Homo sapiens: one gene and its partners. The protein of the gene in region 4 interacts with the protein of the main gene of each other region in a pairwise test. Each region holds a gene or a part of one and is shown on either strand. Other genes may lie near its edges.

Region 1 (7,025 bases), on a different chromosome or scaffold from region 4:
CCCAATTCCTACCTGACAGACATACAAAAACAATACAGACACAAGAAATGGTGAACTGCTTAATGCATACCTATTAGATAGAGAGTAAAGGAAATGAACCGGTGGTATTTACTGAGAATCCGCAAAGGCTCTTCTCTCTGGACCAGGGTGAAGAAGTAATCCGTCACTGTCTCACCATAGAAGAAATAGTTTACACACAGGAGAAAGTACCTGTAAATGAAGACAGGTCATTGCCGTGGGGAGCACCCTTGCCTTCACAGCAAGGCAGTCAGACATCCCAGAGGAAGGGACAGAGGGCAGCAGAATACCCCCCACCCTTGAGTCCCCCGGGACAGCTCACAGAGCAACAGGCAGACCATGGTTTCCTGCTCTCTGGTGACACCGTAGGTGAGAAATTTATCTAGAAACAGACAGCAGCTTTCATTCACTCTCCATTTCTCCCAAACTTGAGACTCCGTTTTTGCCCCTTTTGTAGCATTCCCATACCTAACTGAGGGATCCTTGAACCATATGACCTTCAAAAACACGCCTCATCCTGCTTCCCCAGTCTCGTTTCCACTCTTCCCAACAGGAACTCCTTCACTCCTATCAAAATGGTTTCTTCCGGCTTTGCCACACCTGTCTGCTGTTCTCCTGCCTTTTTCCTGCTCCTGACATTCTCTTTGCTTCTCCATTTCTTCACTCCTTGCTCAAATGCCATTTTATTCATAAAACTTTGCATGACCTAACATGACATCTGCCTCCCCTGCATTTATTTCTATAGCAAGTAATATGTGATTATCTGACTAAGCAATTAATGATGCATCTGCCTCTCTGAAGCCTGGCTCTGACAAACAGACCTTCCATTAGCGTTAACTCTTCACTTGTGTATTCTCTCTCCTCAACTGGCGTTCATGAGAAGAGAAGCCATCCCTTGCAGCCTCCACAGTACTGCTGAGTATGGCACCATGCAGCCATCACTGCAAACCCCCAGCAAGGATCCTGAGATAGAGAAGAAAGTGGAGAGCTTTTCTTTCCCATTCTTTTTTTTAAATTATGAAGTACAAAAACTCCCATATTGGGTTTCTTTTCTGTTACATGGAAAAAACTTTCTTTGTAAAGTGACCACAGCCAGGAGTCAGGCCTCCTGAGTATGTTAACAAAATGCAAAACACTGCTTTCCAGCTAAAGAACAGCCACAAAAGGGACCTGCATCTTAAGCCAGGTGGCAATCCCAATTCCATCTGGAGGCTGGGAGGCAGCCTGTCTGTTGGGTGACAGGAAACACCTCAGGAAGGGGGTGCCCAGCCTACATCTGAGCACATCGGCTTCCTTGACAGTGACCAGGTTGCTGGGGCAAAAACCACTGCTCTCCAGCCGGCTAAGTCATGGCTTCAACCCCTGTATCCCTGCACAGTGGGGTGAGAAGGTCCACATTTGCCCCAGGTCCTCTCAGCATGGTGCAGTGCTCTGCTCAAAAGTCACCACCTGAGAATACTACGGCCAATAAAGCAGAGTTTCAGATCAGAAAGGGGTCTCAGACATGTGTTACAGGTTTTTCTTTTTGCTTTAAGAAAGCTGAATCCTTTCCCAGGAAACGGAGAAAGCCAACTTTCCCAGCGGAGCCCAGATCCCATGCATTCAGCCTCACTCCTGCCCACTCTGGCACTCAAAACACCTCTGATGAAGTAGGGCTCAAACACCACAGTCTGGAAACCAGTAAGTCTCAACCATCTGTCTTAGAGATAAGGAAACCAAGTTCCAAGGATAACAAGCAAAGCCGGCAGCAGAACCTAACAACTTCCAGACAACTCTAGTGGGATGCTGAGATATGACGGCATGAAAAATATACTGATCTAGAAAAACGGGATCATCATGCAGAGTTTAAGGAATCCAAATAGCGAGGCAAACACAGTCACAGAATGCAGCCCATCTGGTTTCTTCTCAGGAAGATTCCAGACTTCAAGTAACTATAAGACTCCTGCAAGGCCAACCACACAGTCTGGCCTATGAAATACTCAGGTCTCAAAGGCACTGTGCGAGTCTGTGGCAATCACCTCTTTTCTCCTGCCTTTTTCTCTTAACTTTCTCTTAACATTCTCCTAACATTCTCTTACCCATTTCTTCACTTATTGCTCAAATACCATTTTCTTCATGAAACTTTGTATGACCTAACATGATAACTGCCTCTCCAGCATTTATCTCTATAGCAAGTGATAGAAATACCCACCGTCACTGTAAGTACCTGCCACAAAGCACATCATCCAAATTCTAAAAGCCTCTGTGGGGCCGGAGAGCTTACCAGCTGAGCGTCCTGAACCAGGGCAGATCATATGAGTGGTAGACGTTGTAGCCAATAGTGATTATCTCATGGAAACACTTAATCTGAACGCACATCACCTGCGGGACACAAAACATTCACTGACACCCCAATTCTTATGATTTTTGGAAATGGAAACCAACAGGTCATGAGCCTTCCAGAAAACCCATTATACTTAAGAAAAATATCGGGCCTCCAGTGGTTCTGCTTCCCTCCTTCTTCCTCTCTCATACCATCCCACAGAGCAATGCAGCCCTCTATGTCACAGGGAGTAGATCCAATTTTCCACTCACAATAAAATACACACCCTGATGTTTCAATTAACTTTTTTTTTTTTAAGACAGGGTTTCACCGTGTTGCCCAGGCTGGTCTTGAACTCCTGGGCTCAAGCAATCCACCTGCCTCAGCCTCCAAAAGTGCTAGGATTACAGGCGTGAGCCACCGCACCCAGCCAAAAGGATTTTTTTTTTAAGTAGAGACGAGGTTTCACCTTCTTTCCCAGGCTGGTCTCGAACTCCTGGGCTCAAGTGATCCTCCCGCCTTGGCCTCTCAAAGTGCTGGGATTATAGGCGTGAGCCGCCATGCCTGACCCTCAATTAACTTTATTCTAAAACCTCCTTTTTAACTTTTTATTCTAGAACCTCCCAGGATTCAACCAATCCATTCTCCTTTTGACTCTGAATACTTGAAAAGTCTCAAGTATTCAAAGTCAAATGCTTTGCTCACATGCAGCTGATGGTCACCTGACCCTGTCCAGGACAGTGGGAAGACAGACAGAGCAGCTCTGTGGACTGGGATTTCCTTAACAAAAGCTCTAAGCCCAGAAGGGAGGCCCCAGGAAAACAGGAAACGAAACCAGGAGTCATATAGAGACATGCCCAGGGTAAAAGTTTACAGAGTTGGAATAATAAAGTCAGTTTTGTTTGTTTGTTTGTTTGTTTTGAGATGGAGTCTCACTCTGTCACCCAGGCTGGAGTGCAGTGGCATGATCTCGGCTCACTGCAACCTCTGCCTCCCAGGTTCAAGGGATTCTCCTGCCTCAGCCCCCTGAGTAGCTGGGATTACAGGCGCGTGCCACCACGCGTGGCTAATTTTTGTATTTTTAGTAGAGACAGGGTTTCACCATGTTGGTCAGGCTGGTCTCAAACTCCTGACCTCGTGATCCGCCCACCTCAGCCTCACAAAGTGCTGGGATCACAGGCAATAAAGTCAGTTTTTTAAAAGAAAAGACACTGAGACATCTTCAACCATAAACAACCAGCCTACACCAATGACCCTCCAGGTGGCTACTGAGAAGTGGGAAGTCACAGATGTTCTATGGCAGAGGTTTTCTGAGAAGCCTGGACCCCCGTCAATTCCCACAACCAACCCAACACCTCGCACTTAAGACAACCGGGCCTGCAGCAAAAACTGAAGGGAAAACTAAAATAGTGTGAAATGGCACTTACGATTATCATCAAAACCATTGGTCCCAGGTAAATGATGATGAAGAAAAATGCAATCATGGCCAAAGTCAGGATGCCTCTCACCCACCAGTTCTTCCATCTAGGTCAGAGAGCAGGGGAAGGAGAAAACACCAGTTAGGAGCCCAGAAAAAAACCAATGCACAAACTCAAGGGATATGGATCTTCCTGAGATGAGGGCCCTGAGCTCAGTCCTTTCCAGATTCACCGTGACGGAGGCACCAGCCACATGCTGGCAGGAGCAGGACCACTAGTACCAATGCCTAAGTCACAACCAAACTTGGCAAAAAATAAACCTAGCTTATATCTTAAAGAAGGTATCAGGCAAAACACAAACAAACAAAAAAACCAAGGGAAATGTAGTGCCCTCTGCTTCTGTATCCACTTGGATGGTTTCTACAGCTGACTATCTGAAGAAAAAAATATTTTTTTCCAGCAGCAGGATCCTACACTGCACTGCCCTGAATAATTATGGGAATAATAGTAACATTATGCAATGATAATAACAGCTACCATAAATATGCATAATTTTTTTTTTTTTTTTGAGACAGAGTTTCCTCTGTAGCCCAGGTTGGAGTGCAGTGGCACAATCTCAGCTCACTGCAAGCTCCGCCCAGGTTCATGCCATTCTCTTGCCTCAGCCTCCCGAGTAGCTGGGACTACAGGCGCCTGCCACCACACCCAGCTAATTTTTTTGTATTTTTAGTAGAGACGGGGTTTCACCATGGTCTCGATCTCCTGACCTCCTGATCCACCCGCCTCGGCCTCCCAAAGTGCTGGAATTACAGGCGTGAGCCACCATACCCGGCCTGAGTAAGGTAATTTTATGAGGACTTTACATATATTAACTCCTTCAATCCTCAACACACTTCGCTTTTACAGATGAGGAAATGGAGGCACAGGTCAAACAGCTGGCAAACAGTAAAGCTGGGATCTGAATCCAAGGGTCTGGCTGCAAAGTCCACGCCCTTAACCACTGCACAATTCAGACTCCCAAGGGGACAGTTGGAGGCACACATAGGAACACTGAGATAATGCTTTGGGGTCTTATAATGTGTTTTTGATCTACTCACATAGCTGTGTTAAAAGAACCAGGTTCTCAAGGGCCAAAAGTTTTAACACTAGATTCACCTAGGTTAAGATGTTTCCCAGTTCTTCCTGGAGAATTTAAGGAACTGTTCACAAAGGATGTGAGAGAAACTAAACTCTGAACTGGAAACGTGGACTCCTCAGTGAAAAGCAGCCTGCCCATTAATCGCAAACCCAAGGCTGGTTTCCTGTGCTGTGCAGTGTCAGCTGACCTCACCCACCTCCATCCCTCCTGTCCCCTCTTCCTCTTTGAACTGCACTTCCTAGTCCAGTCTGAAGCACCCTTCCGGGGCCAGATCCTTCCAGCCTTGGTTGCCCTCCCCTCCTGGTCACTGTGCTCACTGCCACTGCTAAGCACTAGATTACACTCAATGGAGCCTGGAGCAGTGGCATGGGAGGCTGAGGCAAGACAGCGGGCCTGCTCTGCAAGACCACGGGCTCTCTGCAGGCTCTTCCAGGGCACTTGGACATGGTGCAAAGCCCCCAACAAGCACCTGCATCATTAAGCCAGGTTACCTTGAAGACAAGTTGGAAAGGGCCCTATTGAGGACCTCCGGGGTATCATCTGCAGAGACTGGCAGGGGTGCGGATTCTGCCCGGCTCTCACTGTCCGATGCAGTCTCTCCATCTACCTTTGCTTCTGACTCTGACTCCTAAGTGGCAGAAATACAGAAGAGAAAAAGGTCAAAAGTGCCGAGTAGACCATTGAGAAGTCTATGCCTGTCATGAGAGATCTGTGGGGAAAGACTCCAAACAGGGCCTAAGAACCTGGCACAGTCAGGTGATGGGACTGACAGGACTAGCAGCAATCCTGACACTGTTGTGACATGTGCCAAGGTGGCCAGCCACACTCTGCTGGAAGAGAGGTGTGCATCTGCACCGCGTACCATCTGCTTAACCGCAGAGGGCAGATCCAAAAGAGAGAGAACATGGCTCCTTTGTATCCAAAGAATGCAAAAGGGAGGCTGGGACCGGTTTTAACAGGAGGTTATCCCTGAGCCTGCTAGGGCAGCCAATGGCACTGACCAGGCTCTCTCAGGGGAAGCCAGGTGGTGAGGCTGTTGCCCCTGTAGACCTGTTAATGTCAACATGTCCCAAGTCCAGAGTGTTATTTCCGGACTTCACTAGAGCACTCTGTGAGGAGGTCAATCACAGTCAGTGTGGACAACGAACCAGACAGCCTACTCCAGACAACGCTCGAGCCAGGACTGGTGCACCTCAGTCCTTTCCCTGCCACCAGGCCCTGGGTGACAAAAGACCCACAGGAAGTCACCCTGCTCCCAGCCTGGGTGAGGGAACCAGAGCCATGCCAGCAGCAAGCTCTTTACCCAAAGTATCAAGGGACAGGCTATTCTGAATCCTAGGAACCATCCTACCACTCAAGTATTTTCTTTCATAGGGGAATTCAGAATAGTTGCTATGAGAAGAGGTGGAGGAGAAAGTAAATCACTTAGAGTAACAACACTACTTAGTATCTGTATAGCCCTGCAAGGTCTGAAGAGCCTTTCCCATGCAAGCTTCAGAGCAGTACTGGGAGGAAGGGAAGGGACAGGAGAAGCCCCATTTACAAATAAGAAACGGGATCTGGGAAGTTCAATGCGTGGCCCAATGTCTCATATTAACCCAGGTCCTCTGACTTCCCTGATGACTGATGAATACACGGAATTGTGACTGTCTCACATGTTCACTGGCCACTTGGTATCTTCTGTCAAGTGTCTGTCAAATCACTGGCTAGTTTTTCTACGGAGTTTTCTGCCTTCCTTTTTTTATTGATTTGTAGTGGTTTATGTGCTCCAGATTTGAGTACTTTGTGTTACTAATATGTTCTCTCAGACTGCTCTAACCCCCACCTTCACCTCAGGCGAGGTTAGACACCCCAGTGATTTGCTCTCTTAACACTAGAACCTTCTCCCTCTCAGCGCTGACCACAACGGGGACTTTTGTAAATGTCTCCTTGGCTGACGACAAACTCCTTAAAGACAAGAACATAACTTCTTGTTCTCATTATCCCCATGCACGGCACACAGCAAAACACTTACTAATGGATGGAAGAAGAGAAGAATTAGGTCCAGGTGTGTAAAGAAAAACCCAGCCCCTGCCCTCAGGGAGACAGCTCTTTCTAAATTAATTTACAACTGTGACAAGACAGAGGGCCTTAACTAGTGCAGATGAGC
Region 2 (7,025 bases), on a different chromosome or scaffold from region 4:
ACCAGCAGTCAAGCAACAAGTCCCAATAAAATATGGTTCATCTGCCAAAGGAACAACAAATGTCCTGGTTATTTATGCTTCTGTTCCCATTTCACACTGTCTTCCAAGCTGAATGAATGAGACATCATAAACCCCAGTGCTTCCCACTCATAATTCTTACATTTCAAGGTCATCTGTGCTCACACTGGATACTTCACCCTTTTTGATTAACCAAAGCCATTTCCATCTTGACTTACAATTGACTGTAAACAATTCTTACATTGGAGCAGGTTCGGTTTTTTCATGGAGAGGGTAATAGTTCTAACTTTTAAAGTCAGAGAATGTTAGTGAGGATTATTTCATAGATAAAACTGAGATCCAGGGAGGTTGAATGACTTACCATGGTTAAGATTTATTAAGGTCACAGCTTAGCCTAGAACTCAGGTTCCCTTACCCCTTATATTCACCATTATTCTGCCATATACTGCAAAACCTCTTGATCCTAAAGTAAAACCAAAGTCACTTCTAGGATATATTTCTAAAACACAAAAATTTCACATGTGGAATCTTTGATGTATAGGTGACTCCACAAGAGTAAAAATGATTACCTCAAAAATATGAAAGCTATTTACACAAAAATGTGAGTATTTTGGTTCTTCACTAAAAACTGCCAGCAAAACTGGATTTGTACAGACTTAAAAGATGCTTGGAAAAACATACACAAAACTCTAAACAAGGAAAGCTTACTAAAGGCATAACCAATGGACATTAATCAAGAAGAAACAGGCGATTTACTTCTTCAGGTTGAAGCAAATAAAGAAAAAAAAAACCACAAAATGCATAGAGTATCACTGACTCCCCTGCCTACAAAAGAGAAAGCATAAGTAGAATACACTGTTTGAAAGATAAAGTCAATCAAAATTTTGGAGCAATATTAAATGAAAGCCCACTAGTAATAGTAACAGAAGAACTAACATAAATTTGTACAAATTCCTAATTTGAACTTCATTTCATCTCATTTTCCAAATCTGCTAACCCTCTGCTCCCTCTCTATCGAGCTCTTCCACCCAGAACCCAGAAATCTCTACATACAAACACTGTTTAGCTAAATGTGGTAATGTGGAATTATACAAGGTATATTTTATTTTTAATCGAGTTAGCACCATTGCTATTTCCTCCTCTTCTATAGGACTTTCAACTAGAATTTATTACAATCAGATCAGCAAAAGCTCAGTTAGGTACTGTTAGCCTACCACTGGTAAATACTAACAGCTTCCCCCAAAGGGGTCATAAATTTAAACAAGAATGATTTAAAACCCTAAAATATTCAGGTGGATCACATAGTTGAGTATGGTTTAGATCTCAACTCTAAAAGGACAGTAAGATTTTGAAGTACTGACTTGATTTGGAATACCTCTCATTACTCTGTTCTCACATTGCTATAAAGAACTGCCCGAGACTGGGTAATTTATAAGAGAAAGAGGTTTAATTGACTCACAGTTCAGCATGGCTGGGGAAGCCTCAGGAAACTTACAATCATGGCAGAAGGAGAAGCAAGGCAACTTCTTCACAAGGCAGCAGGGAAGAGTGACAGAGCAAAGTGGGAAGAGCCCCTTATAAAACCATCAGCTATCATGAGACTCACTCACTATCATGAGAACAGCATGTGGGAAACTGCCCCCATGATTCAATTACCTCCACCTGGTCTCTCCTTTGACACATGGGGATTATGGGGATTACAATTCAAGATGAGATTTTGGGTGGGGAAACAGCTAAATCATATCAACCTCTTTCTAAGAATGTACTTTAAAAAGCTTTTCAGATATTAGAAAATGAACTTTGGATTCTTCTTTCCATTATACCAATGAACTTAATTTTTAATATACGAACCTCTAAATTTCAATTTGCAAACTTCCTAAGTCTACCTTGCAGAAATAAATATAATGATTAAGGTTAAGGACATATGCTTCACTGCAAGGCCCCACTTAAATATTAACGTCTATAGGAGTATCCTTCAAAAAACCTACTACTACAAAAAAAAAAAAAAAAAAGCTTATACAAAATAATTGGGGATTTACTTATCTTACAAAAAATATGTCACCTAACAACAAGGCTTCCTCATCAGAACAGTATTTTGAACTGGCTAGAAATTAAGAATGTCCAATCCAAACACTCACTGTGGATGGGGCATCTGAGGTCCAGAAAGGTTTCTCCCTCATTAAAATGTGGGTTTATCTATAAACAATTTACGTATATGTATATAGAAAGGCAACTAATGAATAAAACAAGTAACAAGAATATATAAAGTTCAGTGATAATCTACCATTTGAAATAATTTCAAAAGGAAATCACATGATATAAAGACTTTGGCAAACACAAACTAAGGTTCCTGCCTAAGATGACTCTTAAAAAGCCGTATGTTAGCACTGGTATGATCCCAAGTCTTTTTATTCAAGGAAGCTGCTTTCTAGTACATATGTTAAAGACAGCTGGTTCTCTTACATCTAGTTATGCTAATCAAATGGCTTAGCCATATAGTTTCAAAATATGAAACATTTTAATGACACAAGATTGTACTTAATATTTTTTCTCAGATTCTTTAATAATGGGTATTATTCTAAATAACTTAGAACTAAAGATTTGTTCACTTGGATCAATTTTTTACACTCTGATAGATGCTTGTTTGCTCTGGATAACTCTGGAACGGCTGTCAAGTAGTTACATATGGAAATGTCAGTATCTTGGGTTGCAAGAGTTCCAGAAGCAATTCAGATGGCGGAAGAGGCCGCTATCCAAACCCACTAAGAGTCACTCTTCAACAATGCGAAGTGATTACCAATCAATCAAAAAACCAAATGGTTTCTACAATAGCAATTGTTTTGTTCGTCAAGAAATAGAGTACACTAAGAAATAAAAAGTGAGAAAGATAACTAGCTTGAAGAAACTAGAGGTATGGACAAGGGTCTAATCATTCAGGATGACACCATTTGAATGTACCCTGCCCAAAGCCAGCAGATTACTGTCTCATTTTTGCTCTCGGAAATAAGCCTGACAGGCTGGGCATGGTGGCTCACGCCAGTAATCCCAGTACTTTGAGAGGCTGAGGCAGGCAAACTACTTGAGTTCAGGAGTTCAAGACCAGCCTGAGCAACATGGTGAACCCTGTCTCTACAAAAAATTAGCCTGGTGTGGTGGTGCACGCCTGTAGTCCCAGCTATTTGGGAGGCAGAGGTTGTAGTCAGCCAAGATCATGCCACTACATTTCAGCCTGGTCAACACAGTGAGACCTTGTGTCAAAAAAAGAAAGATTAAAAACAGATTTCTTTTTCTTCAATCACGGAAATTTTTTTTTTTTTTTAAGGTACAGTGACGTGATCATAGCTCTCAGCCTCAACCTGATCCTCCCACCTCAGCCTCCCATCTTGGTCTTCCATGTAGTTGAGACAACAGGTGTGCACCACCATGCCCAGCTAATTTTTATATTTTTTTTTTGTAGAGACAGGGTTTCATCATGTTGCCCGGACTGGTTTCAAACCCCTGGGCTCAAGTGATCCACCCACCTCCACCTCCCAAAGTGCTGAGATTACAGGCATGAGCCACCATGCGCAGCCAATCAGAGAAATTATATATGGGGAAGCTCACATTTAATTCATATTTAAAAAGTGGTTTCAGAGGTGACCTATTAGTTTACAATTAAGGGAAAGAGCTCTAAGAAGTCTGGCTATTTCTTATACAGATAACACAATAAGATCATATTCCTTACCCTGACAACTTGCCGAGTACTTGTAATGAAGGCTTTTCTTATACTCAATTCAGTTGCATCAAGGTTAAATTTTCTAGGATTTGCTTCAACTATGCGTAGGTCAAAAAGTCAAGGTAAAACAATTTCATCATCAAAGCCTGACAACATCCTGTTAACTCACTGAATCTCTCACATGCAAACAAATAAAATCTGGCTCAAACTTTCTGAAAACACAGTCAGCTGGACACCAATCATTCTCAGACTTCCTCTGCCCACAGCCACAGGAGGGAGGATCCCTTTGCTCCAAGACAGAGATGATCTGTCTGGTTAGGAAGCATAGCCCCTGCTGATGAGCTTCACTGCAAACACTTAGGGCTATCTGACCACAGGTGAGCTGGGCTCTTCCTGTTTGCCAACACTTGTGTCTATCCTTTTTTGACTCCTGATCACCTTTACTAAGACAGCTTTTGCAAGCCTTTTTCTCCTGCCATTCCAAACCACTTCCCATTATGCCAAGATGCTAACCCTACTTCTTAATCTAGAGAGATCGGGCCTTCTTCAGAGAAGCTGCCCTCATTCCCTTACCCTCTAGCCTGGTCCGACGCACCATGTCAGACACTTGCATAGCTCTCTATACTTCTCGTTCATAGTCTGCAGGTATCTATTTGTGTTATTACTTGATTACCATCTGTCCCCCATCCCTATCCACTCAAAGTTCTGTGAGGGCTGGTATAGTGTTTATTAATCTAATCTCTGTAACCAACAAAATGCCTGGCACATAGTATACTCAATAAACACTTGCTGGTTGAATGATGAGTATCTATTAAAACTTTTGTTTTTTTAATCTCACATTTTCTCTATCTCCCCTAACTTTTTTTCCTTCCCTCCTTTCTCAAGGGAAGAATTATCTCCCTGTAACTGTGCTTTTGATCCTGCCCCCTCACATATTTGCCACTAATTTTAGAGAACATACTTGCCTTTTAATAATGTAAAAGGTACCAGGGTCATCATGAATAACAAAAATTATTTACTCCATGTATCAACTGCATACGAACCTGTGCTAACTATAAGGTGATCCTGACAGAAGCTGGTTTCCTTATGTTTTATCTCACTTAGGGAAAAAACAAAACAGAACTCAGAACATGCAAGTGGCATATCTTCCATCTAAAGTTTTGGTTAAGTGGGATTTCCAGTTGGAAAAAAAGGCTATATAATGAAGTTTTTACAGTTCTCCAGTGCATGAGTCAGATCAGTGGACTTACTTCACATCAATACCATGAATTAGCAGAGCAGATCTGCTTTTACTAAATGCAGTTTCATGGAACAAGACATCTCTTCAATGGACGGTAGCACTGTAACATCACTTCTTAAACATGAAGACAGTCTACAAAAAGATTTTTTGATCTCTAATTACCGAAGTGTAACACTGGCCTGTATGGACCTCTATATGATAATGACTGCTAACACTATTACATAAGCTGTGTGCCAGGTGCCATTCTAAACTCTTTACCTGTATAATCCCAATAATCCTATGAGCTAGGTACTCTTGTTATCCTAACTTTCCACTAAAGAGGAAACGGAAGCACAGGAGGTTAAGTGATGAGCCCAAGTCACATGGTAACTGGTTGTGATACTGTAATAAATGCAAATTCGGTCTCTGCCCCCTCATTTCTGGCACACAGCTCCTTGATCCCTTGGAATCTCCAGATGAGTATCTTTTGTATGTTAATGGGATAATTGATGGCTGGGGGTTTCTAGATAGCCTCAGGACGAGGGGCTGGTCCCCAGAGAAACCAACCATGTGATTAGACAGTTGAAGCTTTCAGCCCCCTGCTTAACCCCACCCCAGGGGAAAGGGGCTGAAGGCTGAGCTGATCACCAATGGCCAACTGATGTGATCAATCATGCCTGCGAAATGAATCCTCCACAAACACCAAAAGGACAGAGTTCAGGAAGCTTCCAGATAGGTGAACATGTGGAGGTTCCTGGAGGCACCTGAAGAGGGCCTGGAAGTGCTGCACCTTTTCTCCCATACCTTGCATGCATCTCTTCCATCTGGTCATTCATCTGTATCCTTTGTAATATCCTTTACAACAAATGGATAAACCTAAGGAAACTGTTTCCCGGAGTTCTGTGAGCTGCTCTTGCAAATTAAATTAATTCGATCTATGGAGGGGGTCGTGGGAACTCCAATTTATACGTGGTCAGTTGGAAGCGCTGGTCACAACCTAGGGCTTGCAACTGGCATCTGAAGTGGGGGCAGTCTTGTGGGACTGAGCTCTTAACCTGTGGACCTGATGCTATCTCCAAGTAGACAGTGTCAGAAATATCATACTGACTTGAGTGTGAGGGTAGAGACTTAAAAAAAAAAGAAAAAAAGGGTTTTTTTTTTTTCCCTTTACATTGGTGGAGGCAGGACTTGAACACCAGAAATCTGACTCCAGGGTCCACAGTCATAATCATTACACTATGCTGCCTTTATATATATATATACATTTATAGTACAGGATTTGTCACACACTGTATAAGAATTTGGCTACTGTACCTTAAGTTACTGGGCAAATACTTTAAACATGTCATGGTACAAGTAAGAGCAACAAACATTAATCGATTATAAAATGTTTCATCTACATACTGGAAACAACTGGAGAAAAACTTGTCCATTTGTCTATTTATCCCGAATGGCACAGACACCACAGAAAAGGATATTGATGGTTTCATCAAGGTCCTCTAGATCCCACTCTATGCTCCGGAGGTTATTTCTCAGCTCGTTGGTGGTCCAGTCGATTTCTTCCCTTGTTGCTGTGGAGGGGTCCTGGAGGAGCTCTGTCCATCTCTGAAACAATCCCTGGGCAGTGTTGACTGCTTTCTGTACCTCTCTGTAATCAAGATGAGGCAAAGGAGAGAAATCACAGACAACATTCCATGGTCAAGTTACTGCATGATTTAGGTTAACATTTATGATCATACACCATCCTCAGCAACCACCATTCCCACAGAAGGCTCTTCACAGACAAATATCAAAGTTCAAAACTTTGATACACAGTCTGAGTATTATGTTCTCAGCTGATGCTTGGAATACAATAGCCATTATTTAAGCAGCTACAATATCAAGTTTGTTGGGGAAGGACAAATTTAATATTTTTCTCTGAACAGACTATACGTAAAAGTATAATGAAGCAATCCTACAAATTAACTAAAGGGCAATGAGCATTCCCACATGCTTCCACTTGGTGTGACAGTATTAATAATTTATACTCAGATGATAAGTCCTAATATGGCCTTTCTTTTCTTGGTGTGGGAG
Region 3 (6,988 bases), on a different chromosome or scaffold from region 4:
GCCTTGGCCAGCTCTCCTAGGTCCCTCCATAGCTTCACCCTCCGCAGCTGGGCCCTGAGCCTGAGAGGGAGGCTCAGAAGGTCCAGCCTCGGACAGCAGCACCAAGCACTGTCACCTCAGCAGATCCCTGCAGCAAGCTGTGTGGTGGCAGCATAAACTCCATTTTACAGGGACGAAAACTGAGACCAGGGCAGGGGCTACACTCAAGTCATAGAGCTGGTAGCAGGGGTCAGACTTCATCCCAGCTGCACTGGACTCCGAGTCCAGTGCTCTTTTCCCATCACCAAGTTCCTTCCCCCAATAGCAACAAATTCAAGGGCCTGTCCCCTTCACTCTGTTTCCCTCACATGGACTCTGTTCCCTGTTGTCCTTTCCGCTCCTGTCACCTTCAAGAGCTGGGCATGTGGGCGTTCAGAGGGGGGTAGCCAGAGAAGAGCAGGGATCTGAGCAGTTGGGGCCTCTGGGTTCTGGCCTGCACCCCCTCTCAGCCCGGTGTGCATCTTTGAGTCTATAAATTCCATTATTCATTAGTTGACTTCGGGAGTTTGCCCGGACAATGAATATTTTATTCACCTCCAGACACTGTCCCCAGTGCGTTCTTGGAACAATATTGTTCCTCAGCCTAGGAGCAGAGGCCATAGCCTCTGCCCTCCCTGGACATCCCCTCCCTACCACCACTACCTCCCCTCCTCCAGTACCTTCTCCCCCAGCAGGAGCCCTGGCTTGGGTAGGGCTGCAATTATTGGTCCCAGCATGATCTTGAACTTGAAGCTTACACCCTCTTCACTTTGATTTCCTCGTTTGGACAATGGGTTCATTGATAGCCTTGGCCGGCTCTTGTGGGTCCCTCCACAGCTTCACTCTACACAGCTGGGCCCTGAGCTCTGCTGGGAGCTCTCCCTGGTGCTGAATGTGGCAAGAGGATGCTGGCCTCGGACAAGAGGTCTCTGGCCAGGGAGGGCAGGGACTGTGCTGCTCTTGAAAGGAGTGGGCTCCAGTCTCAGGGAGGGAAGAGTCTGGCCTCTGAACATGGCAGTTCCCACCTCTCTCCCCTTGTCTCCTTCCCACTTGGGGAACCCCCCTGGAATCACAGGTTTCAGCGTGTCACCTCTCCCAGTGTCTCTAGCCTCCTGACCCAATGATTAGTTAGCAAGGCCTGTGGAGAACCCCTCTTGGGAGGACCTGAGGCTCAGGCATCTCCCGGTGGGCACCCCAGAGAGTGCAGTGTGATGGCAGCAGCACCTTCCCCAGATGGGGGAGCGACAGACATAATTCACACCCTGTGATCATGCCATCTGCTCCCCCGTGACGCACAGAGGAGAGGACGGGGCTGCAATGCCGAAGGGCGGGGGGCGGTGGTGAGCGGGCAGTCGTTCATTCACTAATTCTCTCGTTCATTCATTTGACAGATGTTCATCCAGCCCCAGCCACCTTAGCCCATTCCAGTCCTGTGCCAAGCGTAGGAGATCTGGAGAACCCAGACCCAGACCTGCCCTTCAGAGCTAAGAGAGGCCCTCTCACACTTCTGAGCTTTTGCCCACCCTCCTCTTGACCCCTGGAATTCCCTTGACTTGAAAAAAAAAAAGCCACCATGGGTTGGGAGTGGTGCCTCACGCCTGTAATCCCAGCACTTTAGTAGGCCAAGGCGGGTAGATCACTTGAGGTCAGGAGTTTGTGACCAGCCTGGCCAACATGTTCTCTACGAAAAATACAAAAATTAGCTGGGTGTGATGGCATGTGCCTGTAGTCCCAGCTATTCGGGAGGCTGAGGCATGAGAATAACTTGAACCTGGGAGGCGGAGGTTGCAGTGAGCCGAGATCATGCCACTGCAATCCAGCCTGGGCAACAGAGAAAGACTCCACCTAAAAAAATAAAAAAAAATACCCACCTGGACAGCAAGCCCAGGAGCTTCCCCTTCACAGGGCGAGTACCAACACGCTCTGCAGCGGCCTCCCAGGGAGTCACTGGGAGCTGGGTTTCCTGCCAGCCTCTCAGCAGGCTCTAGCCCACTCTCCCTTGGCCCAGGGGTTCTGATTTAGAACTGACAGGCCTGGGCTGGCACAGCCTGGACACTTAGTAAACGTGGAACGACTGAGCTGCTGCTGCGGCTCGCTCTCTCAATCAATACTCGAAGCTATAATTATTATTAATTCCTATTCCTTGGGGGGGATGTTCATGCTAATAGGAAACTCCCAAGAGTTTCAGGGAGGTGATGCCCGGCACCTTTCCTACATTATGTCACTTCATCCTCACCGCTGCCTGGGATGTGGCACTGCCACCTTAACAGGCAGGGAAACTGAGGCTATGGCCGGTTAAGGGACCTGACTGTAGTTCCATGGTGAGGAGATGGTGGATGCAGAAGCCCCAGTCTGCCTGGCTCTTGGTGCTGGGTTCTTACTTCCTCAAGTCTCTGCTCCATCAAAAACACTGGGGAAGCTCAAGGCATTCAGCTCTAGCGGTGGAAGGTCAGAAGATGGGACAGGTGGGCAAGGAGAGCTTTGGAGTGGGGTGGGAGCTTTTCTGGGGCCTCTCTCACCTCCAGGCCCAGGTCCCAGTGGGCAACCAGCTAGCCCGGAGAGGTCTGGGGAGACAGACAGACAGCTGGTGTCCTTCCTGGCTCCTCCGCAGGTTATAGATGTTTCTAGGAGCTCCCTCCAGAGCAGGGCCCAGGAAGTGCTGGGCCCAGGCTGACCCAACCCCGCTTGGCTGGGGCTAGCATCTCTCACTGAGCCCCTTCTCCCCAGACCCTGAGACAAGGCTGCGATTAATCAGTAACAAAAACAGAAACAAGCAGAAAAGTGTAATCAGCTTGGGAAGGGCAGGGCAGGACCGGGCAGGGCTGTGCAATCAGCGTTCCTGCTGGGACCTTTAGCTGATTGGGCCAAAGGGGGCAGGGAGGTGGTCCCAGTAGGGGGATTCAGGGAAGCACCCAGAGATGGGGCCACAGCCAGGCCAGAAGGTCACCCCCTCCCATGCACATCTGTGCACCATATGCCCACACCACTCCCAGCCCCAGGGCCTGCACACCTCCCCCGACCTGCCAGCGTACAACCTTGGCACACACAGGTGGCCACACACTCCCGACATTTGTCCATCTGCATATGGAGTCACAGACACCTGCGCACGTGCCCAGTGGCACATACACACCCTCATGGATAGCAGACATATGCACACGCAGGCTGCTCCCTCAAACACCTGCCCCCACCCCAGCTCTGGGGTGCCGACGTGCCCTGGGGCCTGGGGAAGCCCTGCACATACATTAGGTCTGAGCTGCAGCCATGTGAACTGGCAGGCCCTCACACCAGACCCCACAGGCACCGGGCCATGTCTCTGTCCCGAACTGCCCTGGGGGCCATGAGACACTTTGGCTCCTCTTCTGCAAGCTGAAAGGTAGGGGCTTGGGAAGGGTCCGGGACTGGGGCCCCATTGTGGGGAGCAAGGTCAGCGGCAGGGTGTCAGTCACAGGCAGGGCAGGAAGCCTACCCCAGACGTGTACCCAGCTCTTACCTGCTGCTCCTGCCCTGTGACCTTGGTCAACGTCCTTCTCTCTCAGCCTCAGTTTCCCCACCTTGGATCCTCCTGGCACGGAAACGGTGACTCTTCTTGAGGACCCAGGTGCTTGGGGCCAGTCTCACCTCTCTGGGTCTACAGTTCTTAGTTCCGGGCTCTCCGCTCCTGGTGCGTGGATGGGGGAAGGTGAGCCAAGGGGCAGGAAGGAGGACCCCCGCAACCCACCCCCTCCCTGGTCCTGGTGGCTGCAGACTTAGGGTGAGGAGAGCCAGTGAACAGAGGGGAGCCCTAGTGGGAAAGGGGAATCGGGGCCGAAGGGGAGAAGGAGCCCCGGGCAGGTTTGGGGCGGCCGCTCAGGGGCCGGCGGCGGGAAGGGGCGGGCTGGGGGTGGGGAGCGCGGAGGGGGCGGGCGGGCGGCTGGCGGGGGAGGCGGGGAGCGCAGCCAGCGCGGCACAGAACGAGCGAGCGAGCGAGCGGAGAGGCGGCTACAGCCTGAGCGCCGGGCCGGTAGCGGCCGCGCCGGCGAGCGGACTAGCGGGCGGCGAGCAGCGCGGAGCGCGCGGGGCACCGAGGAGCGGGCGCGGCGGGCACCGCGCGAGGCAGCCGGAGCTCTCGGAAAGGCCAGAGCGGCGCCGCCCCCGCTGCCCCTGCGGGGCCCCGGCTGGGAGCCCGACGAGGGAGCGGGCGGCATGGCCCGGCGGCCCGGGGCGCGGGGGCGCTAGGCCCCCGGAGGGGCGTCCCCAGCCTCGCCGCTGCCGCCGCCGCCCTCCGCAGCCGCGCGCCCCGCCCGCTCCAGCCGCCCCCGGGGCCGCCACCGGCCCATGAGCCCCGGCCTCAAAGTTTGCGGCGGGCGGGCGGGCGCGGAGCCTCCAAGATGCCGTTCCACCCGGTGACGGCGGCGTTGATGTACCGGGGCATCTACACCGTGCCCAACCTGCTGTCGGAGCAGCGCCCGGTGGACATCCCGGAGGACGAGCTGGAGGGTGAGTGTCCGCCGGGATCCCCGCCCCGGCGGCCCTCCTACCTGTGCGCCCAGGTGAAGCGCGGGCCAGGGGCGCGGGGGCGGGGGGCGGGGGGCGGTCCGCAGGTGCCGGTTGCCAGGTGGGCGCCCCAGCTAGCAGCTGTGCCCCGCGGCAAGACCTGTCCGCACCCCGGGGCGCCGCGGTGGGGGTCGCTCAGGCGGAGAGCGGCCCAGCCCCTGCCCGCGTGGTCCCCAGCGCTGCGGAAACTTGCCGGGCCCCGCAGCGGGGTCACGGGGCCGCGCAGTCGGCGGTGACGGTGCGGCAACGCGGCGGACTGGGGCGGGGGTCCGCGCTGAGCCCCCAGCGCCGGCCCGGCCGGAGCACCCGCATCCTGATCCCCTCCGCGGCGCCCGCCCGCGGCTCTCTGCTCGCATTGACATTCCGCTCGTGTCGCTTTAAAAATTCAATCTGCTCGGGCAGCAGCAGAAGGGGAGAGGGCGACTGCCCTGCTCTTGCCCGCTGCGGGGCCGCCCCCGTCCCCACCTGCGGCCGTAGCCCCTTCCCTGCAGCCCTGCGGGGACCCCCAGCCCGGCGCGCCGGGAAGGCGGCCCGGGAGGCGGTGGCGACAACAAGTGGCCGGACTGGGCGGCTAAGTCGCGATAGCCAAGCCTGGAAGGGAAAGGCAGAGAGGCCAGGACCCAAACCCGCCCCCACCCCGTTCCCCCTGCCTCTCAGACTCGCAGGGGGATGGCAGGCCGCTGGCTGGGCGAGGTCAGAGCAGAGGGCAGGGGCAGGGGTCCGGGACAGTGTGTCCTGAGGAGCAGTGAGACCCCTGGGGCCCGCCCAGCTCCTTCCCTGCTGGGCTGGGGGAGGTGCTGAGGTTTCCCCTCCCCCCAGACCTCCTGGAGCCCCCATATGGAGTGGAGTGGGGGATCTGGGCTGATGGGGGTCACGGCCTCCTGGGATCTGCATGTCTGCTGTTGCAAGGGGCTGAGCTCACCCAGAGGATGGGCCTCTCGGGGTACCTTGGATCCAGGGGTCTCTGAGATCTGGAGGCTCATTAGGGCCTGGGAGGGTGCAGCCAAGACCAGCACAGTCAGGGAGGATGGTGGGAGCCCAGGGGAAGCCATGGAGGGAGGTCCTCCCTCAACCCAGGCCCAGGGTGAGGGCAGATCTTAGAGGAGTCAGAATGGGTCGGGGGAAGATCCAGAGAGAGAAGGCAGCCTCTGCCTCGCTCACTGCACCATAGGCATGAGCCACCAGGCTCCTCACCAACTGCCCCTGCAAACCCTCAGAAGCGGGGAGAGCTGTGGAGACAGGGTCTGGGGTCTGATGCGGACAGGACAGATGGATGATTGGGGCCCCCCGACATGACCTCACCATTCACCCCTAAAACCCAGGGCCAGAGCCTCCTCCAGAGCCCGGGGAAAGGAGGGGTACGATGGTGGGGGGCGAAAGGTCAGGAGATGGAGCATAGGCCTTCTCCTCCCCACCTTTGTCCCCTCCGGCCCTGGGCCACCTCAAACCTCCTGCAGATTTTTCCCTCCAGAGGCCCTCATCCATCCCCTCCTCCTGACCATCCAAGCAGGAGTCACCATGTCTCCCAGACCCCAGGCAGCTTCCGCTTCACTCCCTCCCCTTGCTCCCAGCACCCCCACCAGGACCCCACCACCCCAACTCCAGCCCTTTCTGGGTCCCTCCTCTCCTGATCCCCAGTCCTGGAGTGCACTCCCTGAGGAAGGGGAGAGGCTGAGAGGCTGGCTGCAGGGGCGAGGGGCCGCAGGGTGGGCAGTGCAGGGGCAAGGCCGCAGGCTCCCCAACCAACGACATGGCGTGCTGGCAGGAGCCCAGCTGCGTTAGTCACCAGCCACAACAAGTGCCCTCCCCGCTTCTCTCCTGTCCCCTTCTCCTGGGCCCTGGGGAGCTGAGGGGCCCTGACTCAGGGGGCATCTGAAGGGCAGGGCCCTCCCTGGGATGGGCAGGTGGGGTCATGGAGTAGACAGATGCCTGGGTGGTCCCAGCTCATCTCTGGCCCAGTGGGCAGCTACAGATGAAGGCAAGAAGTTTTCCATGACCAGCCCCCTTCTTGGCTGCAGGTGCCCTAAAAGCCCTCTGGCGGCCCCAGGTCCCTTTCAGCAGTCCTTGAATGCCAGGGCTGGCCATTCCTGGCACGGATCCCCCTCTGCCCTCTCCGCCTCTGCAGGGCCTCATGAGTGCTCCTGCCCCAGGGCGGTCTGGGCGAGACCCAGGCCCTCTGCCGGGAGGACGCCATTCGCGGAGGAGCCACATGTGCCAGGAAGAGGGAGCTGGGCAGCCCGGGATGGAATGCTGCAGACAGTACGTGCCTGCCGCAGAAATCCAGGGGGCGGTCAGTCTGAGCGGAAAGGAGGACCAGGCAGGGAGGTGGGAAGCACAGAGTTAAGATGAGGGCTTCCCAGCCAGGCGGCGCTGGGTTTGAGTCTCTGCACCTTCAGCTCATGGAGTGACCTTGGGCAATCGCTCACCTCTCTGAGCC
Region 4 (7,025 bases):
CAAGTGTGAGGGAAATGCTGTTCTCTAGACTTTCAGATCCACACACAGGAAGTCTACACTGATAAAGCGGACTAGCAGGTGACTCTGGCCAGACTAACTCATGGTGATACTGTCCCCAAGACAAGTGGCTATTAGAATAAACCAGATTTACATAGCATTTTGGTTTCACTTTTTTTTTTTTTCTGTACACATGATCTCATTTGACTACTTAGTTGACCCCTGAACAACTTGGGAGTTAGGGAAACAGACCCCCTGTGCAGTTGAAAATCTGTGTATAACTTTGACTCCTCAAAAACTTACTAATAGCTTACTGTTGACTGAAAGCCTTATGAATAACATAAGCAGTTGATTAACACATATTTTGTATGCCATATGTATTATATACTGTATTCTTACAATACAGCAAGCTAGAGAAAAGAAATGTCATTAAGAAAATCATAAAGAAGAGAAAATATATTTACTATTAAGTGGAAGTGGATCACCATAAAGGTCTTCATCCTCATTGTCTTCACATCAAGTAGGCTGAGGAGGAGGAGCAAGAGGAGGGGTTGGTCTTCTCTCAGGGGTGGCAAAGGTGGAGGAAAATCCACATATATGTGGACCCCATGCAGTTCAAACCTGTGTTGTTCTAGGATCAACTGTATTTCTCATGCATCTTGTAGTGCCAACTCCAAAAGCGAGTGTCATCTTAGGGCTTTATTTATGAGGATGCAGTACATAAAATGCTTGGTGATTCATAAACACCAATTGATAAACTTCTAATATAATTAACTGTTAACAATTTTTCAATACATCTGATGGTATATAGCAGATAGGAACACACTATGGGAAAGGGACCTCTCCAGGAAGGAAGCCAGCCCACTGCAAGAATAACTGAGCCTGTCAGAAAACACTGTGACATAAATCAAAGTGCTAACCTCATAAACTATAAAGATCATTCTCAAGGTAAGGCAGGTGTTAATTACTACCAAATGTTAACAGAGGCATGTATGGTGACAGTGGTTTTACTTCATGGTTATGAGACTGAATTTGAAGCACTTACAAATGGCACATTGATTTTTTAATTGCTTTTCTGTCCTTCCATTCATGTATTTGGTAAATCTTAGAAGTACAGGCTGAAAGAGTGCTGAGAGGACCCATTCATCTCATCTAGGGCATGCTAGGAATCATTAGAGAATCACAAACTTGGAGAGGTGTGACTTGTCAAAGATGAAAGAGGAAAACAGAAGGTGTCTTCAGGGTGCTTCTCAAAGAATGGTCCCAGAATCTCCTGGGGTGTTTAAAACTGGAAGTTCCCTCTGGTCCCTGGCTTTGAGCCCACTGGGCTGTACAACCCACTTATCTCTCACCTGTCATGTTCAAGAGTGATATGCAAAAAAATATGGTAAATTCAACAGAAAGTGATGGACATGCATATTCTCAACACCCTCCTTACCTAGTTTGGTAACACCCAACACTCTAATTTATAGCTCTGGTGCCAGTCTCTTCTCTTGAGTTCCACACCTGTAGGGTTAACCGCCTACCCAACCTCTCCACTTAGATATGTAATAGTCATTGAGGATTAACGTGTTCAAAGTTCAATGCTTTGCCTTCCATGCAAAACTTGCTCCTCCCTCAGTCTTCCCTGTCTCATGTAATTGCAACACATTCTTCTGGTTGCTCAGGCCAAAAATACCAACGTTATCCTTGACTCTTTATTTTCTCTCAGCAACCCATCCGCAAAACCTACCGTTCAACCAGTATAACCACTTCTCACCTTCTCTACTGCTATCATCCCACTCCCAAACCGCCGCGCCGCTCAACTGCATCACAGTAAAACCGCATCACAGTAACAGCTTCCCGACTGCTCTTCCTGCCTCTGCCCTCACAGCCTGGAGTTTATTACTGCTAGGGCACACAGAGCAATCCTTAAAAATGCGTAAGTCAGATCACGTTCCTCCTCTGCCCACACCCTCCCCTGGCTAGTATCTCACTCCAAGTAAAAGCTAAGCTCTCTACCATGCCCACTGGCCTGTGCCGACCGTACTTCTTCTGGCTCACTCTGTTCCAGCCTCCTTGCTGTTCCTTGTGAACAGTGAACACACCCCTCCTCTGGGTCCTGGCACCCAGAAGTTCTCTCTCCCTGCAACACTCTTCCCTCAGATAGCCTCATGGTTCATTTACCTCGTCTCTGCTCAAACGCTACCTACTCAGCGAGCCCTTCCCTGACCCTTCCATAAAAGAGCACACCCCAACACTCTCAAACCCATTACCTTGCCTTTTAAAAACTTTACTGCATTCATCACTGCTGGACACATTCTATATTTATTTGCATATATGTTCATAATCTTTCCTCACTGGAATGAAAGCTTCATGAGAACATGGACTTTGTCCATTTTGTTCACTGCTGTGTTCCCCGGCACTACAGCTCAGAGCCTGGCTCAGCATGCACATGTCGAATGAATGCACGGGCCGAAGGAAACAGCCAAGGAGCTATGGCAGGGCTGCTGGCATTTAACCTCTACACCTTCGGATGTGTCACGAATGCCTACAAACTACACCCTTCACATTTCTAGCTGGCATTTCAGATGCCCGTCAGTAATGGTGAGTATCTGTGGCCAGATGCTCCATCCACAGTGTATGACATGCATTGATTTATGGTTATTACCCAGCTGGTGGCTCCAGCTGTAGATGCTGTAAAGGCTCTAAGGTGGGAGCAAAGTGATTTTAAATCACTGACATACTGTTTAATAAAAAGTCAGATCTTTTGTGAATGGAGGAAGCCCCCAAACCAAAAAAGAAGAAAAATCTGAAAAGATCACAGAAGATTTTTTTTTCACTTATCAGAAAACTAGCAGCAGCATCCAGTCCCAAATGTCACTAGGTATTCTGCTAGGGGACTCTTAAGTTCCTGCTCACAAGCCTGCTCTATAAACTTTATGTCTAAAATCAGTGTTGTTTCTTTCCAAAGTCTGTATTAGCGACAATGATGTAGAAGTTATCACATGTAAAATCATGTTACTAAATAGATAGATATAAATTCTAATATTCTTGATATATACAGTAGACAAAACAGTTCACTGCAATTAAGCTTTAATACTAACTCAGTACTGGCTATCTTTTTCCCTTAGTAGTTATGAATAAGAGCTAAAGTGCCTTGTTTAATAAATTATCAACATATTAAAATATAAAAAATTTCAAAATTTGATTTTTTTCAAACAAGCAAACAAAATAACTAGATATAGGAAAAGATGAAAAAAATTTATAAAAATGTTGAAGACAAAAGCAATTCATTCCCCTATTTTTCCTAATTGCCAGTATTTCTCAAGTTTTTTTATAAGTGTTATTTTTATACTTGAAAATAAATTTTATTTACAAAATAAAGACTATTTCAGAAAAATGACGTAGGTTTTTTAAAAAAGCTTTAAAAACACTTTCCAAGAAGGAAACAAAGGAAAGGGAAAGAATAGAAAAACACTGGAAGTAGGGCCGGGTGCAGTGGCTCACGCCTGTAACCCCAGCACTTTGGGAGGCTGAGGTGGGCGGATCACAAGGTCAGGAGATCGAGACCATCCTGGCTAACACAGTGAAACCCTGTCTCTACTAAAAAATAAAATAAAAATTAGCTGGGCGTGGTGGCGGGCGCCTGTAGTCCCGGCTACTCGGGAGGCTGAGGCAGGAGAATGGCGTGAACCCGGGAGGCGGAGCTAGCAGTGAGCGAGATTGCGCCACTGCACTCCAGCCTGGGCGACAGAGCGAGACTCTGTCTCAAAAAAAACGAAAAAAAAAAGAAAAACACTGGAAGTATATAACTTTTAAAGTTCTTTGCCACTAGTTTAAATTTTTAAGAAACTTCAATTTTTATTGATGTATACAGCAAACAATGCAATTCATTGCAATTAAGCTTTAATACTAACTCAATACTGGCTTTAAATCAGCAAAATTGAAAATATACGTTTCTTCAAAACAGGCCCTTATAGATAAAAATATAAATACAAAGTTAAAACAACCTGTAATATTACATTTAAATTGCAGCTATCAACATAAATTCATAATTTAAAAACTTTTTATTAGGGAACTTTTTAACCTTGTACAGAAAGAACTGGATAATAAACAGCAGCTGGGTTTCATCTTTACCCCTCAACTATCTCCCCCCAACCATCCAGGAATGCTTTCAAAGTAAATCCTACTTTTTCAGGAAATAGTATGTATCTCTAAGAGGTACTCCTTAATCTTTTTAGTATTCACAATATTATCCCAATTAAAAAACGTTCCTTTATTTCATCAAATATTTAGCTTTCAGATTTCCATGATGGTATTATGATTTTGTTTGTTTACATGTCATTTACAGTTTGGCAGCATGAAGAGACTCCCACTGGTCAATTTTGGTGTAATTTAAACAGTAAGGCATAATCACTGTCATTCATTTCAATATACTGAATATACAAAAATCTATGAAAATGATAATTTGCCACAACTGCATGGGACTATTATATTGATTTTTTACTTTGAAAATTGCTAATTAAATAAAAAGAACTGAGCATTTATCCTACCTTTTTTAGGAAGAACTGTAATCATCCCCAGTTGATGAGGAGAAGCTCTTCTGTAGAGAAGAATGACAGCTAATAAACACAAAAGAAAAGTAAAAGTAATTAGAAAATCATGCCACGCACGATGTCTCACACCTGTAATCCCAGCACTTTGGGAGGCCAAGGCGAGAGGATCACTTAAGGCCAGGAGTTTGAGACCAGCCCGGGACACACAGCAAGACCCAGTCTCTACAAAAAATAAATTAGCCAGGTGTGTTGACACGCAACTGTACTCCCAGCTACTGGGGAGGCTGAGGAAGGAGGTTCACTTGAGCCCAGGAGGTTGAGGCTGCAGTGAGCTCTGATCACACCACTGCACTCCAGTCTGGACAACAGAGCAAGACCCTGTTTCAAAAAAAAAAAAAGAAAATCACCATTTTTCCAACCCCAACGAAACTACTGATTCAGGCAGGATGCAAGAGAGCTGATGCCAAAGGGTCACAAACAGATTACTTTCAGACTGAGAGGGAAAAGCACACTCTGCTGAGGGTAGACAGCTGTCTGTCATCCTAAGCCAACGTCAGACTCAGCATCTCCAACAGTGGAACAACCTGCCATCCTTGCCACATCTCTGGATGGGAAGCTACCCAAAGTGCATGGCACCTTCTATTAAGCAGCTTTGCCAAAAAGGTTTGACCTGAACCTGATGCAGGGTCTAGCTTCCAGTTTCCAGGGGATACAAGGGCCAGACTCAGAGAAACAATAGAAGATGCCACAAGGAAACAATCTGACAAATCCAGATGGAACAAGACACCTGGTTAGTGTCTAAAAAAGCCAATGCCATTGGGAATGAAAAGGGAAGAGGGAAGCTATTCTTGAGTGAAAAAAAAAATCAAGGAGACATAATTTTGCTGAAAAGAAATGTTGGGAATGAGGGGAAAATCTGAATAGGGACTAGGTATTAGATACTATTAGAGACGTATTGTTAATTTTCTTTTTTCTTTTTTTTTTGAGACAGGTTCTCACTCTGTCACCCAGACTGGAGTGCAGTGGGGCAATCTCGGCTCACTGCAACCTCCGCCTCCCAGGTTCAAGTGATTCTCCTGCTTCAGCCTCCCAAGTAGCCGGGATTACAGGTGTGCACCACTACCGCCTGGCTAATTTTTGTATTTTTAGTAGAGATGGGGTTTTACCATGTTGGCCAGGCTGGTCTCGATCTCCTGACCTCAAATGATCCACCTGCCTTGGCCTCCTGAAGTGTTGGGATTACGGGCGTGAGCCACGGCACCCGCCTGTTAATTTTCTTAGGTGTGAAAATGGAATTCTTAAGAAACAAATGCTGAAGTATTTAGGATAGTGTCATGACATCTATCACTTGCTTTGAAACCATACAGCAGAAAATATAAACAATGCACTTACGGCAGCATTTGCTAAATCTAGGTTATGGTTATACGGGTGTTCAATAATTAATACATTTTTAAAGAACAAATCAATAGCCTAGAGGGAGGAATGGTTCACTGGTAATGCCAATGTAACTATTCTAGTCTGTGTAAGTTCTAAATTTCACTGTAATTTAATACATTGACATTCTGGCTTTGTACATAATTTTAAAAAATATTCCCTTTATTCGTTTCAAGCCTATATCTAAGTGACCCATAAATAAGGAACTTTATAAACTTAAAATTCTGATTTTTTTGTAATGCATAGTGCCTTTATTTCTTCATTTAGTTTTCCTTAAACTCAGGTCTAAAAGTCTCATCATAAATGGTGATGGGGGCGGATGGGAAGGAGGCTGGCATAAAAAAAGTACACATTAGGTACAATGTATACGATTCGGGTGATGGTGCACTAAAATCTCAGAATTCACCACTATATAATTCGTCCATGTAATGAAAAACCACTTGCAGTCCAAAAGCTACTGAAATAAAAATTTTAGAAGAATAAAACAAATGGTGATGGTTTCAGTTTGAGGCAGAACTTGTACAATTTTTTGCTAGTGAACGGTTAAAAGTTAACTGGTCTACAATGGGGTGGTGTTTCTCAGAAACCACGGCCTGTCGGCATCACCTGGGGATGCTTTTCAAAACACAGATGTTTCCTCTTCCCTATCCTGTTCAGAACCAGTGGGTTAGGCCAAAAAAAAAAAAAAAAAGATGAACTTTAAGAAAAAGAGTAAGAAAACACTATAAGTGGGGTCAAGGGTAGTTTGAGCTAGGATGCCTGAGACTACCCCTAACCTTTCAAAGTTGAATAAAAATAGGAAGCCATGTTCTCTGATGAAAATCTCTGATGCCTCTGTGAGGTAAACAACACTAGGCTGAAGAGGCCAGGAGACTAACTCAAAATAGAAACAAACGCTTACGTTCTTATGATAATCCTGTTGCATTTGCTGCACTCACTCCCACAACTATACTCTCCGAGACAGCCACAATATTCTAAAAACCAATTATCTTAATGTCAATTACTTATAATGCATAACTTTATAGTATGATATCCATTTTTAATTCGATGATTACT

What was found.
Region 1: the proteins of MTIF3 (region 4) and CDS2 interact in binary tests that used the Homo sapiens proteins (3 or more experiments, as listed by UniProt).
Region 2: the proteins of MTIF3 (region 4) and STX6 interact in binary tests that used the Homo sapiens proteins (3 or more experiments, as listed by UniProt).
Region 3: the proteins of MTIF3 (region 4) and CABP7 interact in binary tests that used the Homo sapiens proteins (3 or more experiments, as listed by UniProt).

What each region holds. Positions count from the first base shown.
Region 1 is NC_000020.11:5,172,002-5,179,026, reverse strand, and holds part of CDS2 (phosphatidate cytidylyltransferase 2), read right to left. Parts: intron 5,505-7,025; coding exon 5,368-5,504; intron 3,845-5,367; coding exon 3,748-3,844; intron 2,380-3,747; coding exon 2,282-2,379; intron 211-2,281; coding exon 71-210; intron 1-70. UniProt on the Homo sapiens protein: Catalyzes the conversion of phosphatidic acid (PA) to CDP-diacylglycerol (CDP-DAG), an essential intermediate in the synthesis of phosphatidylglycerol, cardiolipin and phosphatidylinositol.
Region 2 is NC_000001.11:180,998,864-181,005,888, forward strand, and holds part of STX6 (syntaxin-6), read right to left. Parts: intron 6,601-7,025; coding exon 6,431-6,600; intron 3,838-6,430; coding exon 3,743-3,837; intron 1-3,742. UniProt on the Homo sapiens protein: SNARE promoting movement of transport vesicles to target membranes. Targets endosomes to the trans-Golgi network, and may therefore function in retrograde trafficking.
Region 3 is NC_000022.11:29,716,040-29,723,027, forward strand, and holds the start of CABP7 (calcium-binding protein 7), read left to right. Parts: upstream 1-3,963; 5' UTR 3,964-4,385; coding exon 4,386-4,494; intron 4,495-6,988. UniProt on the Homo sapiens protein: Negatively regulates Golgi-to-plasma membrane trafficking by interacting with PI4KB and inhibiting its activity.
Region 4 is NC_000013.11:27,440,556-27,447,580, forward strand, and holds part of MTIF3 (translation initiation factor IF-3, mitochondrial), read right to left. Parts: intron 4,602-7,025; 5' UTR 4,533-4,601; intron 688-4,532; exon of another isoform or gene 462-687; intron 1-461. UniProt on the Homo sapiens protein: IF-3 binds to the 28S ribosomal subunit and shifts the equilibrium between 55S ribosomes and their 39S and 28S subunits in favor of the free subunits, thus enhancing the availability of 28S subunits on which protein synthesis initiation begins.